Regions from separate parts of the Homo sapiens genome. Here region 1 is linked to region 2. Evidence: fine-mapped expression QTL. A gene starts in region 2. The other region holds a variant in brackets. All regions are shown on one strand. Distances are between the middles of the regions.

Evidence for each region. PIP is the estimated chance that this variant, and not a neighbour inherited with it, causes the effect. A credible set is the group of variants that fine-mapping cannot tell apart.
Region 1: its variant is the best candidate, but not a certain one, in a credible set for the expression of ACAP3 in nasal epithelium (TOPMed, PIP 0.57).

What each region holds. Positions count from the first base shown.
Region 1 is chr1:1,536,600-1,541,897 of GRCh38, forward strand. TMEM240 (transmembrane protein 240) reads right to left here and starts at 4,025. Exons shown (of 4, transcript NM_001114748.2): 1 at 3,691-4,025; 2 at 3,085-3,191. The coding sequence starts at 3,747. SSU72 (SSU72 homolog, RNA polymerase II CTD phosphatase) reads right to left here. Exons shown (of 5, transcript NM_014188.3): 5 at 5,074-5,298. RefSeq lists a silencer at 2,610-2,904. The variant C/A (reference allele first, on the strand shown) is at 2,325.
Region 2 is chr1:1,305,858-1,311,218 of GRCh38, forward strand. It overlaps ACAP3 (ArfGAP with coiled-coil, ankyrin repeat and PH domains 3), which reads right to left and starts at 2,073. Exons shown (of 24, transcript NM_030649.3): 1 at 1,912-2,073. The coding sequence starts at 1,958. PUSL1 (pseudouridine synthase like 1) reads left to right here and starts at 2,740. Exons shown (of 8, transcript NM_153339.3): 1 at 2,740-2,863; 2 at 3,058-3,115; 3 at 3,229-3,416; 4 at 3,597-3,746; 5 at 3,824-3,994; 6 at 4,777-4,831; 7 at 5,052-5,214. The coding sequence starts at 2,787. RefSeq lists silencers at 1-107, 1,622-1,841, 1,892-2,061, 2,102-2,781, 3,002-3,071 and 2 more.

The sequences.
Region 1 (5,298 bases), 230 kb after region 2:
TCTGGCCTCTTGCTGCTGGGGCAACACAAGCTCCCCAAGGAGCTCGCCCCAGCAGCTCACCCTGTCCCAGGAAGGTCTCCGGGCCTTGACTCTGCCGATCGGACTGGCATCCCAGACAGTCAACTCTGGGATCCCTAGTCCAACAGGAGGGCCTGGGAGTGGAGCCCGCGGGCCCCACGCGCCTTGCGGTCCACACTCCTGGCTGCCTCCCACATCTCCGCCGAGCTCCAGCTGCCTGTGTCTCCACGTGGGATCCGCAGACACCTTAAACTTGTGCCTAAAAATAGCTCCTCTCTCCCCAGACCTGCTTCTCCCCCACCTTCCCCTCGGTGACGTAGCAGCGCCTCAGCCTGGTTTTCAGCCGAGACCCAGAGACCACCCCACCCTCCACACCCCAACCAGAAGTACTTCCCACACTGAAAGCCCAGCCTGTCCGTCCAACCCAGGGTCTTGCAGCCCTCTCCAGGCCATCCCTGTGCCCAGCGGGGACCACACAGGTGCCTTCCCTCAGTGAGATCTGGGGGGTCCTGGGGCCCGAGCCCAGGAACAGGGAGGAGGTGTCCCCTGCCCCACGCTCCCCTTGAAGCCCTCCTGCTCTTCTGGGGTTCCCGGAGGTCAGTCCCCTCAGCATATCCGGAAAGTGGCCGCTTTCAGTGGCAGGGCTCTCGGTGAGGAGTGACCATGACCGTGGCTGATTCCTGGTGGCCACCGATCACCTGGTGACGAGCCTGTCCACAGCCATCGTCCATCGTCACCAATGGGCAGCTGCTGACCACTGCCCAGAATGTGCAGCTGCCAGAGGCCCTCAGGGGAGGAAGCTGTTCCTGACCCCTTAGAGAGTCCTCACCCACCCCAGGGGCTCAGTAACTTTGGGGGTCAGAGGTCACAGCCTGTGTCCCCCACCATGGCTGGCCTGGGTACCTGTAGCTCCTCTCCCTGCACCTGGCCCTCCTTCCTGGAGGGCTCAGGTCTCCCAAGTGAAAGCAGGAGATAGGCCTGGGCAGAGATATGCTATCTGCACACGTATGTCTGTGACATGTACATACGTGTGTCCTGCCTGCACCACACACACCAGGTGTGTCCACCTGAGGCCCAGTGTACATCACGTATACACACCAGCCACATGCACGGGACATGGCGTGATACTGTGGACATGGGCCCCGGGAGCGCCACACCCCCGCCCTGTGCACGGTGTGTCACGCGAGTGCATGTTCGCTTGGCTTTGCAAAACGCAGCCACCCTCTCCACGGGGCGCCACGTCACGTGCATGGACGGATGTCTAGTTTGGACGCTGCCTGCCAACAGACTTTGGAGCATTGATTTCCATACACGTTCTCCACGTCAACGTCTACGTATAGGCACGTATGAGGCCTACACATGTACACACACTCGTTCTGAACACCAGCGTGTACACACAGGGAGCCTCTCATGGCAGTGCACGGGCATGGTGGATACGCAGATACCGCATGTGCAAGACTGCTGTCTGCACACACACTGGCTGCAGCTACACGGAGACATCTTGACATGTCCCTGAGCACACGGCACTGTATATTGTGACATACATGTACTTTGCATACACATATATGTTGTCAATATACAAGGGCACTCTGTACGCTGAACGTACATATCCTGTATGTAGAGATGTGAACAGAGCATAGATACATGGACACACACGCAGCAATACCGTCTACAGCAGGCTGTGGCTCTGCTTCCCACACACGGCTGCCTTCAGCGTGCACCCACCCGAGTCCACGCGTGCTCTGGACACGGCATGAGCCGCCCTACATGCCCTGTGCAAATACTCTAAGGCGCCTCTGCCTGCCCCGCGGAGCCCTCAGTGTGCTGCCACAGGCGGATGCACACGGCCCCAGCCCACGTGCGTGGAGGCCGCACCTTTCTGATGCTCTGGAGCTCGGGTCTGGGCCCAGCCTCCGGGAGGCAGTGGAGCCGACCTCAGGCCTTTGCTCAGCAGTCGGACCTGCCAGCCAGGGACACGGGGCTCTCTGGTAGCATGTGGCCACCCCACAAGCTCTTACCCCCTACCCTGTGCCCAGCACACGTGAGGGTCACAGACACCCCGATCTCTGCCTTCTCTAACACCCGTGTTCTTCATCGACACGCCTGCTGCACCCATAGGCATGTCACACGCTTAGCAACACATGCAGCTGTCCTGAACACACATGCCCCACACCCACACGTATGCACAGAGACCCCCGGAGCAGGAGGCAGCAGAGATGACGAACACGGGTTCTGGGCTGGTGCCCCCTTTGTCCTTCACTAGCTGTGTGACCTTGGAAAAGCCTGTCCTCTAAATCCTCCGTCCA[C/A]TTCCTCATCTGTTCAGCAGGGTTAACAGCGGCCACTGCGTGAGGGTGTCCTGAGGGGTGGAAGTGCATGCGTGCGTGCGCGGGGGCTGTGTGTACGCACATGTATATGCACAGACGCCACACACATGCGCGTCTCATGAGAAGATGTTTATTTCGTACATGGACGTACAAACATGCATGGCCAAGAGGATCCCATCGCTACACGTGCACAGAGGGGGTCACACGGTGGGTGCGGGGGGTCTGGGCGCTCCCCTCAATCTGAATGACCTTGAGGAAGCTCCACCTCCCCGCTGCCCCCCCAGCCCATCCCTCAGCTCCTCTCCAGCCCGGGGGTGGTGCCCAGTGCCCCTCAAGGCAGGCCCTTCCCGCCTTGACCTGCATTCCCCTGCCCAGGGACTCAGTGCAGGGCCCAGCCCTGTGCCAGCAGGCGCTTCCTGCCCCAGCCCTGATGAGGCTGGCTTGGGTCTCCACTGTGGACATCACACTGGGCTGCGGCTTTCCGGCCTCCAGGCTGGACCAGGAGGCCCCGTGACCCATTCCGCCATCACCCTGGAGGCCTCTAGGAACGGCGTCCTAAAGCCATGCGCCCCCAGGAGACCCCCGCCCACCTTGAGACAGCTCCTCCCCCTGCGCACCTGGCAGCCCTCAAGGGTGGAAGGCGGCTCGCGGCCTGCGTGGGGCTGGTTCCCCCGCGCCCCGAGTGGGCCCCGCCACACATGTGCGCTCACGCGTGTCGAGCCGGCGCCGGTTGTGGACTCACCGGCCACAGTTGCAGTGGCAGACGCGGTCCTCGCCCCGCAGGTGCGGGAGGATGTAGTTGTGGAATCGGTCCAGCAGCGCGTTCATGTCCATCAAGCACGCGATGGCCTGGAAGAGCTCATGACCGGTCAGCGCCAAGGAGCGGGCGGGACGAAGCGGGGCTGGGGGTGGGGAGCGCAGGCCGGGGTCGGGGCAGCGCAAGCGGGGAGCGAGAGCGCAGGCCGGGGTGAGGGGAGCGTAGGCCTTGGTAGGGGGAGCGCAGCGGGTATGGGGATCGCAGGCTGGGGAGGGGAGCGCAGGCCGGGGTGGGGGGAGCGCAGGCCCGGGAGGGGACCGCGGGCCGGGGAGGGGGAAGCGCAGGCCGGGGTGGGGGGAGCGTAGGCCGGAGAGAGGAGCGTAGGGAGTGTGGGGATCGCAGGTTGGGGAGGGGAGCGGAGGCCGGGGTGGGGGAGCGCAGGCCGGGGAGGGGAGCGCAGGCCGGGGAGGGGAGCGCAGGCCGGGGAGGGGAGCGCAGGCCGCACGGGCGGTAAACAAGGCGCGGGAGGTGGGCCAGGCGGCGCGCGCGGGCGGGGAGCAGGGGGCGCGCGCGGGAAGCCCCTCCGCTCACCATCACGACCGACGCCCCCAGAATCATGAAGATCATGGTGTTCGCGCTCATGGACATCGGGCGGGGCCGGGCCGGGCCGGAGCGCCGCCCCCCGGCCCCGGCGCCCCCCCGGCCCCGGCCCGATGCTGAGCCCCCGCCGCCTCCGCAGAGGTCAGCGCTTCCCTGGATCGTCCGCCGCCGCTCGCTGCAACCCCGGCACCGGCCGGGGGGAGGAGGCGCGGGGGGGGGGGCGCCGGGGAGGGACGCGGGGCCTTTCTGGGGTCTCTCGGCCCGGCCCGCCGCGCTCCGCTCCGCCCTCGGGTCCTCCCTGCGATGCGCTCGGCTCGGCTCGACTCGGCTCCGCTCGGCTCCGGCCCCCTCCCTGCCTCCTCCTCCCTCCTCCCCCCTCCCTCCCCGCCGCCTTCCTCCGCCTCTCGGGAGGGACCGCGCAGACCGCAGGCCGCCCCGTGCCAGCGCCGGGAGGAGACCGCCATCCCCCGGACGCCGGCCGGGACCCCTCCCCGGGAGCCTCGGCTTCGCGTCCCGCCCCAGTCTGGTCAGACCCAGCCCCGGTGGCCTGTCCGGTGACCCTGGACGCCAGTCCTCCGGTCCTGGAGGGGCGCCGAGGCCCTTCCCGCCCCACTGCTCCGCCCTACGTCCTGGACTCCCAGGTCGCCGGGTGCGGGACTGCCCCAGTCCGCTCGGCACGCACGTGCCTCCAGGGTGGGGTCCGCAAGGTCGCGACAGCCCCACGGCCGTGGGGGCCACAGGTCAGGGACGGGATGACCCCTGGAATCCTCAACGGAGGGATGTGGCACAGGAGCCGAGGGCAGGGCCGCCCCGCACAGGCTTCCCTTAGGGCGGGGACGAGGGGGTCAGCCCAGGCCCATGGGTCGGGACGCCGGCCATTCAGAGGCCCAGTGGCCACCACTCCGCTGTGGCTGTCCCTGGCTCGGGGTCCTGAGGCCAAACTCTCATCCACGACCGGTGACCATGTCTCAGGCCCGGGAGCCGACCCCCGGCCTCAGCAGGAAGTCAGCGGGAAGCTATGCCTGGGACCCAGCCTGGGTCGTGGCGCCATCCAGGCTCACTGCAGCCTCCACTCCTGGGCTCAGGCGATCCTCCCGGCTCAGCCTCCCCCGTAGCTGGCCTTGGGGGATCCCCGCCCGGGGGGGTTCCACATGGAGAGGGGACGCCGCTCCACCACAGGCAGCAGTTGTGGCAGGAGCAGGCGGCTTCCGCTTCAGGCAGCACAGGCACGGGTAGGCCCAGACCCTGTCAGCACCACCAGGTCTGAGCTACTCCTCCCAAGCAGTGGTCGGAGGTCACTGAGGGCGGCAGGGCTAGGCCTCTGCCACCTCCTCAGGGGCGAGGGTCGGGCCAGGAATTCAGGACCAGGCACAATGACAGCAGCATCTGTTTATTGACAATTCCAGGTCATTCCTAACACGCCGCAGCAGGGCTCTGTACAGTCCGGCCCGGTGGGGAGGAGGGAGGGAAGGCAGGCACACGAAGACACAGGTATGTCGGGAAGTGCACACAAACCGTTGTCTTTCCTTTTTGGTTAAAGAAGAAAAACTTTGTAATCAATATCCTGCTCATAAGTAAAAGTGGAAAAGAAGAAACTTG
Region 2 (5,361 bases):
CCCTCCCCAGACCAGGAGGGTGCGGGCAGGGTCCCCCTCTCCCGGGCTGGGGCGACCAGGCTCCACGTTACAGACCACATCTTCCCGCCCACCCTGCCTGGCCCCCCAACCTGGCGGTAGGCCAGGAAACTCAAGTTACGCCCTTAGGGCCTGCCCCCAGGACAGCCTCAGGGAGCCCCTCGAACCCCAGTTAAATCACAGCCTAACCCCAAAACCCACTGGGCCAGGCCATTCTCATCTCCCCACTCCAGTCCATGCCCCACAGGGGTGAGGCACTTTCCCAGGGCAGTCACTCTACGGCACCTACTGCAGCCCCACAGCCCCCATAACTGGCTCCTGTAACAGGCTCCCATGAGAGCCGGTTACCAGAGAGAAGGCCCAGAGGTGAGTGGGTTCCAGCACCCCCACACGACTGGAAGAGGGCAGTACAGGGCCGTCTGCGTGGAGGAGGAGGTCCATTAGGCTTCTGACGGAGGGGCCAGGGAGAAGGTGGGTGCTTCAGCCAGGGTCCAGCCCCCAGCAGGGAGGCCATGCCCACACCTCCCCACAGCCCGGGTCCTCAATGCAGGATCCTAGGGTGCTCAAGTTATTCAACCCCTTTTCCCAGGTCAGCAACAGAAGATGGGAGAGCAGAGGATGGCCCCAGTTCCTCTGCCCAGGGCTGGCGGCCACTCTCCTGGCTGGCCCTGAGCCTCCCACTCCAAGGCTCCTGAGCCTCCTGGTGAGGGCTCCAGGGATACAGAGGCTCCCCGTGCCTCCACACACATGCTGACTTGCCAGCAGATCCCAAGAGACCCAGCGCGCGCGTGCACACCCACACATACACAATCAAGCACACATGTGCAAACATGTTCATGCACAAACATGCCTGCACACACTGGTACCACACATACATGTGTGTTCAAGGAGACACTGCACAGACACGCATCAACATGTGTACCTAGTGATGGAACACGCGTGTACAAGGTGATGTGTCTATTGCTGACATGGCTAACACAGTACGTGAACCCACACAGACAGGTGGTGTGTGCACACGCTTGCGTGCACTCATCGGCAGGCTACATGCAGAAGCAAGCACAGCCCCGTGGCACAGCTCATCCACACGTCCTGTGCAAGGCCTGGTGTCCGGAGGGAGGCACGCAGAGGGGCAAAGTTCACAAGAGCGCACCCCGCACGAGCTCGTGCAGAGGAGGGGGCCTCACGCAGGTGCGCACTTGGGGATGCAGAGAGGTTTCTTTGCCTCCATTGTCGTTTGCCAAATGTCCACCAAGCAAAGCCGATGCACACTTGTGCACACGTCTGTGAACATGTAGTTCACGCAGGTGTACACGCCTGCACGCCACGAATGATGGAAAACATGCAGACTCGGTGTGCACACAACCCCTACCCCCTACCTGACCTTCCCCGCCGCTCTTCTCGGCCGCCACCCCTCCAAGCCCCTGGGTCATTCAAACCACTTCACGTTTCCAAGCACCCTACCCCAGGCCTTAAACGCGGCTCCAGCTGCCTGTTCCCCACGCGCTGCTCTGGACACAGGATCAAGTCAGAGACCAGGGGCCGACGCCCCCACGGACCCAGACGACCCTGGCCAGAGCTGGACTGCAGGGCCCGGGAGGGGCTCAGCCCAGTGGAGGTGCAGACACAGAGCGGGGGCGGACGGTCCCGAGGTGCCCACGGCTGCCCACGCGCACGCCCTCCACCCGGGGCGGCCGCACAGGGCAGGAGCGTCTTTTGTTCCAACCCCCGGGGCATGGCGGGGCGGGGCCGCCGCTTTGTCCGAGGCCGGTCCTCCAGCCCCTCCCCGGCGGCCGCGGCCCGGCCCGGCGCTGACCTCCCCACCCCGCCGCCGGGCACAAAGGCGACAGCGACGCCCCCGGCCTGCGCCCACCCCGGCGGCCCCGGGCGGCGCACCTGAAGCGCGGGGAGTCCTTGACGCACTCCTCGAACTCCACGGTCATGGCTGCGGCGGCCGCGGCGCTCACTGGCACGAGGACCGCGGCGCCGAGCGGCAGCCGCGCCGGCCCGGACCGCTCGTCCCGCCCGCGCCGCCTCGGCGCCCGCCCGCCCCGGAATGAGGCCGCCGCGCCGCGCCCCGCCCCGCCTGTCACCGCCGGGGAGCGTCGCCAAAGTCAGCCGCCCGCGCGCACCGCCCGCTGTCACTGCCGGGGAGCGTCGCCAAGGTCCGCCGCCCGCGCGCGCCGCCCGCTGTCACCGCCGGGGAGCGTCGCCAAACGCCTCTCGCAGCGTCCAGGGACCACCCCGGTCCGGAAGTGAGGCGGGGCCTGCCACGGCCGTCTCCGGGGACAGTCGGTGGAAATGTGGGGCGCGGGGAGGGCGCGGGGAGGGCGCGGGCCCGCCCGCTCCAACCATCCCGGCCGTTGCGCAACTCAGGGCGTTTGCAAAAACCACGTCTGGGAGGACTTGGCCGCAACGCGGCGAACGGGCGCGCTCGGGGAGTGTGGGCGGCGGCGAATGAATGAGCGAGTGAACGAATGCACGCCCGCGAGAGCGCGGGGTGACCGCGTGGTTGGTGCGCGCCTCCCGGGGCGCCGCGATAGAGGTAGAGCGCCTGCGCTCGGCGGCGGGCCGGCACTTTGCAGCCGCTCCCTAAGCCCGGCCCCGCCTCCGCTCCCCGACTCTGGCCGCCGTGGCGCGGTGCCACCGCGCAGGCGCAAGAGCGGCCGGGGCCGGGGGGGAGGGGGGGGGGGCGTGACCAGGCCGCGTCCGCGCGCGCGCAGGATTCCTGCGCTGGAGGCCGCCTCTGACGCCACCGGCTGGGCTCCGCCATGAGTTCGGCGCCGGCCTCAGGCTCCGTGCGCGCGCGCTATCTTGTGTACTTCCAGTACGTGGGCACCGACTTTAAGTAGGTTTCCCAGGCGCAGCGGCGGGCGCCACGTGGGCCCGGGCGGAGGCGGGAAGGAGGGCGCGGGCGGGCAGGCGGATGTCTCTGGACGCGGGTTCCAAACGTTCGGGGAAGGAAGCGGCCCTGGCCTCAGACGGCGGCGGAGACCCCAGGGCAGGGCGCCCCCGGTAACCTCCGCCCGCTTCTGCCCGCAGCGGGGTCGCGGCCGTCAGGGGCACTCAGCGCGCCGTCGGGGTCCAGAACTACCTGGAGGTGCGCTCAGCCGGTCACGGGACGCCCGGTGAGGGGTAAGGGGGAGGCTCCCGCCCGCGCGTCCCCGGGGTCCGGCCTCGCTCACCCGCCCGCCCCGCGGCTCGGTCCTGCAGGAGGCCGCCGAGCGGCTGAATTCCGTGGAGCCGGTCAGGTTCACCATCTCCAGCCGCACGGACGCCGGGGTCCACGCCCTGAGCAACGCGGCGCACCTGGACGTCCAGCGCCGCTCAGGCCGGCCGCCCTTCCCGCCCGAGGTCCTGGCCGAGGCCCTCAACACACACCTGCGGCACCCGGCCATCAGGTGAGCCCGCGACCTAAGCAGCCCTGGGGCTGTGCCTTCCCGACTCCATCTGTCGCGGGCGGAGGCTGGAGATCTGGACAGACTTCCTTGTCTGGTCGGAGCTCGAGGGGGAAGGAGAGCCAATGTGACACCGCGGGCGGGCGGGGTCGTTCCTCCGGTGAGCTTTACCTGCCGCCATAGGGTCCTGCGGGCCTTCCGAGTGCCCAGCGACTTCCACGCTCGTCACGCAGCCACGTCCCGGACCTACCTGTACCGCCTGGCCACTGGCTGTCACCGGCGTGATGAGCTGCCGGTGTTTGAACGCAACCTATGCTGGACTCTCCCGGCAGAGTGAGTGTGGCCCTGACAGCGGGGAGGGGGCGGGCAGGCCGGCCCCACCCTCCTGACGGTCACCCTGGTCCCTGAAGCTGCCTGGATATGGTCGCCATGCAGGAAGCCGCCCAGCACCTCCTCGGCACACACGACTTCAGCGCCTTCCAGTCCGCTGGCAGCCCGGTGCCGAGCCCCGTGCGAACGCTGCGCCGGGTCTCCGTTTCCCCAGGCCAAGCCAGCCCCTTGGTCACCCCCGAGGAGAGCAGGTGAGGAAGGGCCCCTGGGCTGTGGCCCTGCCCTCAAGTCACGTGCTGATTTTAGCTCCAGCACCTCCCCCAGTTTTAAGGCAAGGTGAGGCGGGAGGCAGGCAGCCGGGAGTCCTCAGGACCTGGACAGCTGGAGGGGATTCGCCCGGACGCCCCCCAGCCTCCAGCTGTGCCCTCCCCCCAGGCTGGGGAGCGGAGAACAGGGAAGGCTGCTTGTCTCTGAAAAACCCCTGCCATGCCTGATGGAAGAATGTTGGCAGCTACTGGAAAGGTCTCACTGGTGCCAGTGGTTCTGGTGGGGTGGTTTCTGCTGCCCCCAGCACTGTCCCGAGGGCCACCCACCAGGTGGCAGCTTCTGACCAGAACCTCCCCTATTGGGGTGAGCCCTGAAGGGGGGAAGAACTTCTGCCAGCCCCAGACTTCTGTGGCAGAGCAGCAGGTACAGGACTGGGGGTCTCTGGCACCCGCACCAGCCACGTTCCCAGACCCTGCACCAGGACCCTAGGTGAGGGCCCAGGGCAAGCCCCTCTGGGATGGCCAGGCTACCTGCCCAGCCTCCAGGGTCCTGCTGCCTCCTTGCCCAAGCATTGTTTCTCTGGTTTTAAGCCCCTCCAATGGGCCTCACTGGGGGCAGGAGATCAGCCAGGGCCCCTGGTGGCCAAGCTAGTGGGAACCAGGCTCGTCTTTAGGCCCACCCTGTCACTCTCCCGTCCAAGGCCACATAGTAGGCTGAGGATGGCAAACACTGCCCCACAGACACCTACAGGTACGTATTTTTCCAGGAAGCTGCGGTTCTGGAACCTGGAGTTTGAGAGCCAGTCTTTCCTGTATAGACAGGTAGGCTCTGTTCTGGGGCCGTCCCCAGGGGGTGGGGCTGAGGGTGGGCAGGCCCCTGTGCAGTCTTGGCTCTGGGTCGTGGGCGGCTCTGGGTCACAGGTACGGAGGATGACGGCTGTGCTGGTGGGTCACGGGCGGCTCTGGGTCACAGGTACGGAGGATGACGGCTGTGCTGGTGGGTCACGGGCGGCTCTGGGTCACAGGTGGCTCTGGGTCACAGGTACGGAGGATGACGGCTGTGCTGGTGGCCGTGGGGCTGGGGGCTTTGGCACCTGCCCAGGTGAAGACGATTCTGGAGAGCCAAGATCCCCTGGGCAAGCACCAGACACGTGTAGCCCCAGCCCACGGCTTATTCCTCAAGTCAGTGCTGTACGGGAACCTCGGTAAGAAAAACAGGCACGAGAAGCTCCTGTCATGTGCCCAGTGACTACTGTGGCCGAGGCATGGGGTGGGGGGCCAGGGGCCACTGACGGCAGCAACTGGGGGTGAAGCAGCCCCCCGCCCAGGGCTGCAGTCCCTCAGGCCAGCCC